2 separate regions of the Homo sapiens genome follow, and region 1 is linked to region 2. A link means that fine-mapping ties the variant in region 2 to the expression of a gene that starts in the linked region. Tissue or cell type: nucleus accumbens. Region 2 holds a variant in brackets; the other region holds the start of a gene. All regions are shown on one strand. Distances are from middle to middle.

The links. PIP is the estimated chance that this variant, and not a neighbour inherited with it, causes the effect.
Region 1: it holds the start of SLC25A12, and the variant in region 2 is fine-mapped to the expression of SLC25A12 in nucleus accumbens (GTEx, PIP 0.95).

What each region holds. Positions count from the first base shown.
Region 1 is chr2:171,892,563-171,895,246 of GRCh38, reverse strand. SLC25A12 (solute carrier family 25 member 12) reads left to right here and starts at 1,003. Exons shown (of 18, transcript NM_003705.5): 1 at 1,003-1,044; 2 at 1,989-2,042. The coding sequence starts at 1,033. RefSeq lists enhancers at 224-790, 791-1,357 and a silencer at 761-1,080.
Region 2 is chr2:172,078,190-172,080,873 of GRCh38, reverse strand. It overlaps METAP1D (methionyl aminopeptidase type 1D, mitochondrial), which reads right to left. Exons shown (of 10, transcript NM_199227.3): 8 at 1,612-1,659; 9 at 668-746; 10 at 1-546. The coding sequence ends at 468. Among named protein-coding and RNA genes, the nearest start is that of DLX1, 6.0 kb to the left of the region's middle. RefSeq lists enhancers at 1-13, 14-542. The variant A/T (reference allele first, on the strand shown) is at 1,584.

The DNA of each region.
Region 1 (2,684 bases), 190 kb after region 2:
GAGCGAGACTCAGTCTCAACACACACACACACAGACACACATACACACAATACACATGTGATTGGGGTTGTGGAGAAGCATTGACCATCTGTAAGCCCCTAGAGGGTGGGGGCTATAGGTTATTTGCGTTTTTTACAAGCAGGACCATGTCAGGCATATAATGGATGCCCATACATGTTTGAATCAATATGTAGCCTAATACAGTGATATTGGCAAGACGGGTTTAGAAACATTGTTTTGGTTCAAGATAGAGTTACTGCTTCTTCTACTTCTTAGGTAGGGCTAGAAATCGAATGGAGAATTACTTTCTGTTCATGTATGGGCAAGCGATTCATTGCCAGCCCTGTCAAAGACACATAGAGTTTTTTTTCTCATTGCACACAGGATTTGGGTGATTAGGAAAGTGGAGCGAGTCTACTAATAAACCGTTGTAATAGCACGCAAAGCAAAAATAAATTCAGCGTATTCGTCCCATGCCAATTTAGGAGCATATTTCTCAAATTATGTTTACGTAGGTTTTCCCTAGAGTGAGTGGTTCCCAATCTTGTTTTGTCGGTATTTGCCATCAGTTGTCATTAATTCATTGTTATTAATGGGAAGTGCTCTTTGATCCGTCGGAACCTTGCTCAGTATAGGCCCCAAATGTTCCTTTAAGCCTCGGGGAAAACGACTTTGGCTGGTCGGTGCCCAAAGCCACACCCACTAAGAGGCCTTAGGAAACCTGGGGCTTTCCTGGCGGCGACCTAGCTGTGGCAACCACGCGGCGCGTCGGGATCCCATGGGTCGCGCTTGTTTTCCCCGTGGGAGGCGCGTCCCCCTCCTCCGCCCGGCCGGCCGGCCCTGGACCAGCTGCCTTTCTGGCCGGGACGCCGGGCCCCTTTCCGCACGCGGCGCGCCCCGAGTTCATTTGCATAGGGACGCGCGCGGCGCCGGCGAGAGGGAGGGCGGGCGCGGCCGGGAAGACGGCGCGCGCGCGCCCTGACAGCTCGGCCCTGCTCGCTCACTCGCTCGTCCCCGGCTTCCGAGCACAGCATGGCGGTCAAGGTGACTCCAACTCTCTGCTGCTGCTTTTATTGCATAAGAGACATTCCGAGCGCCCTGCCTGCAGCCCCCCACTGCTTCCCATTTTATTCATTGTCTAGGTCTTAGATAGCTTGTCCTGGGGCTCCGGCTTGCTGCGGGGAGAGCTGTGCGGGGCTTGGACCGGAGGAGGGGATGCCCGGCTGGGGGAGGGGAAGGAGGAGGGATTGTGAGTTGAAGGGGCTTGTACGGTAACACGGGTCAGTGAAGGAAGAGTAATGTCCTGTCCTAGGTGCATGGGATTGTGAGTCCGGAGTTGGAGGGCATCAGAAAGGGTGTGGGAGGAAGTGGCAAGTAAAGCTGGGGATACCTAGGGTATCAGTGAATTGCGGTGGGGGAGGGAGTAAGTATTGAGTAATTTGGGGCCTCAATAAGGCCGAGGGCAGTGGTTGGCTTTTGCGTTGCAGATTGCAGGGTATGGAAAGTATTTGTATTTGTGGCAGCTCTCATATTTTAGGTTGGATGGGGAGAGGGACGCGGAGATAATTACATGTTGGGTTTGCTTTTTATGGAGAAAGGCTGCTAGGCCAAGTGATTAATTTGGGTGATTTAACTTTCCTGTTGATCTACTCTTGTTAGCTTCTTGATTTGAAGGTGGGTGGTTACTACTGTGTTGCTAGTAGATGTGGAATAAAGTAAAAGATCCTCATTGCCTTCCCTTTCCAGTCCAGAGGAAGCACTGTCCGATAGCTTTGCTGTATCTTAGGCTATTCGCACCTGTTTTTCTGCCCTCTAGTCACAGTTATCCAGTTTGACAGTTCTTATCAGCAATTAGGGCTTTTAGTTTGTTTTAAACTAAATGATAAAAGATAGGAGCATTGATTGTTAGCCATGTGACCTCTAATCTGAAGAGATTGTGTGGTCTCTAGTGAAGCATTAACTGGCTTTTTTTTCTTTTTTGCTTACAGGTGCAGACAACTAAGCGAGGGGATCCTCATGAGTTAAGAAACATATTTCTACAGGTAAATTGGCTTGCATAGTGTGCCTTTCATTGCAAAAACAAAAAACGTACATGTCCTTAGTCCTATTCATGCCTTAACTTTGAGGAATGTTCAGTTTTCATGTATTCTTTCAAACATGACCGGACAATATAGCTTATACTTCTCTTAATAAGGTTTGATTTAAGGCCTTCTTTTAATTAAGGGTCGATAAAAGGTTTTCCTCAAGTTACTGCTTTTTTTTTTACATGACTTAAGATATATATTTTGAAAAAAAATTTCCAGCTTAAGCACAGAGACCAAGATAAAATTTCAAAATGTATTGGCATTCTTGTATAGTTAATAGGTATGATGACTAAAATTCTCTTCCTTGAAAGTTGCATGTTTACAAAGTTTTCCTACTTATGAGCTATCCTCCATGTAATTTGTTACAGAGATAAGAATATTATAGCTATTCTTAATTTGTGTGTCTTACTTACATTGTATCCTTAAGCCTTGGGGATTTTACCCCAAAATGTTACCTCTTAAGATTCTTGCAATGGTCTACCTTAACTTCTAAGCTTTTAGAATCAGTGACTTGGCTGTAGACTTAAAAAGAAAAGAAAAAAGAAAAAAAAAAGGTTGGCTTAGTTTTTTGTTTTGCTTTCTTTTCTTAAATTTCAAAAG
Region 2 (2,684 bases):
CGGATTCTTAAAAATCCCAGTCAACAGGTTCGGATTTTTCGGCAGACGTGCAAAGTTCAGATACAAAGATCACTGTAACTGTCAGAGAGGTAAGGACCTCTGATACAATGGATTTAAGAGGTTTTTTACTCCAACAGTCAGGGCAAGGGAAAGAGAAAACCGTGCTTCTCTTGGAATCTCTTCCAACAAGGGGGTTTCCTCCAGTCCCCTCCAGATGCGTTGACCGCGCTGGGAAACCGAGTCCAGGGCCAGGATTTGTTTTTCCAAAGCCGCGCGACCCCAGCAGGGCTTCAGATCCGAGTTCCCAGTTGCTCTTCAGTCTCCCCCGCGTTCTTCCAAACGCTATCAGGAGCCACGCAGGTTACCGCACCACCGGTCATTTCCCTGTTTCTTCTAAAAGTTCTCCAGCCAAATTTCAGCAATTTATTTAAAAAGGCACCAGGTCACCGCGACCTTCGGGCGGCTCCTCAGGCCTCATGGGGTAGTTTGGTCAGGATCTGCGCGCCCCTCGACGTGATCAGAACCGTGTGCTCGAACTGCGCCGACCTGTAACACAGCACCCAGCCGTCAGAACGCGCACGCAAGCTCCGGCCGGGCCACAAGCGCGCCGTCGGACCAATCTTCCTTTCCCATACAATTTAAAAGCAACAGAGCAGAAAGCAAACACCTTTGATTGTCTAGGGAGACCACAGTCCATGCATCCTCCAGGACTTTAAATTCAGGGGATCCCTCCGTGATGATTGGCTCTGTAAGAGGAAAAATATTTACTGCAGTGACCTCATCAGATTCTTGTTAAACATTGTTTCCGGCTGATTATTAAAAAAGAGAAGTTTCTCCTCCCTCCCCTCAAGTGCTTCCCCCACAGGCTCATGTTGTCATCTTGCAAGGGTTGATAATTGATGTTGCTTACATAGTATACTACAAACTAAACAGTTGGAAGAGGAAACACTGCGCCATTCAAAATGTATGAAGTTGCCTAGTTCGTAATTTTTTAGAGAAAGAAGGGCATTTTAATCAAGCTTTAATTAGGACCCCGTGGATAATAACCACCCAAACACCAGTCCCTCTTATAAATACCAATTTTTAAAAAAATATTTAAATTTTAAAAACATGCTCGAGATGTTCATTCATCAGCAAATAACAATTTTCTTATTTCACTCTAATTGCTTCTCCATTAAGTCCCACAGTCAGAAACAGGATGTCTTTACGGCCCTAGGTGACTGGAATTTGGTGGTGATACCAATCACAGGATCAGCCAGGAACGGGCCACCAGAGAGCACATGCCACTTGCTGACAGGGAGCAAGGGACATAATCGTGTCTAGTTACTGGGTGTTAATGAAAAAACAAAACAAAACAAAAAACCCAACACCACATTATGCTGGTAACAGAATTAGAGGTTGGATGGCTGCCTTCTCCTAAATGTGTCGGTAAGTATCTGATTTAGGAAGATGGGGCTTGAGGATATTATTTAATCAGATTTCCAGTGCATCCGAATTATTTCATTACACTGATTGGCTTTATTGGTCCTTCACCGGACTGCCGGGCCTAGGCCAGTGGCAAAAGCTTCCACCAGGAGCTACGC[A/T]CTCACTCGGAAGAGGAGCTCAATTTACCTATAGTGAATGCCATGCCCTCCTCCATGGGTAGATCACTGTCGTTTGCTGCAAAACAAAAAACATGGGGGGTGAGAATAGGAAATGGGGAGGACAGAAAAAAAAAACAGATTACAGGGGTCAGGCCCCTTTAAAAAACTTGGTCGTTTTATTTCTCTTCTTTTAGAGAAGGAAGGGTGGAGATTTCTGGAGTCCTGGATAGTGACCAGGAGTTAAACACGGGGCTACTGGGCCTGAGTCTTTGCATTATCTGTGCTCTGGGTCAAGACTCCCCCAGAAGAGTTTTCCAAGGCCTGGCAGGGGCAGCCTGGTTGTTTCAGACACGTCAGGCTTCCTCGCCCCCTCTCCCTGTCCCCCAGGCTACTAGGTCTCCCAGCCTACTACTGGGTCCTGGGCCTTGCCCACACCCCTCACTCAAAGAAGTCCTGGGGAAGGATGCAAAGGAGGGAAGCCTCCTTTGGTGCAGGTTGTGGGGAGCAGGGGCCTGACTTCAAATAGCTTCACTCCAGACATTGGCACCAGGTAGGGCACAAGGCTGACAAGCCGTTTCTGCACTCTCACCTGAACCTCTTGAGCTGCCTAGGTGGGGGCTCTTTGGTCCAAAGAGGGTTTGGACCTGCTGGGTGTCCAGCGATCCTCGAGGGCATGGGTCCGAAAGAGTAGTCCTTCTATGGACCAATCAAGTCCATAGGGGCACAGGTCAAGGCCCCAGGACCAACTTTCCTTTGATCCCCGTCCAGGTGTGGACCTGCCTTGAGGGTGCTCCACTGAGCTGCCTCCTACCTCAATCCAAATCCTCCCACCCCTCTGGGCCCACCCCTGTCTTCTCACTATAGGGTGCACACCCAGGCAGTGAAAAACAAGAGATTCTGGGGAAGGAAGACAAGGGTGGGCATAATCTAGAAATCACGAAGGAGTACATGCTGCTAAATACATCAGCTGTCAACGCTGTGTAGGATGTAATGAAGTTTAACCACAACAGTCAGCAGCTAGAAAAGGGGGTAGAAAAAGAAAAACAGAAACAGTCATATGTGCATGCTGCTGGGACACTGATGCAGTGGCGTTTTGTTTTC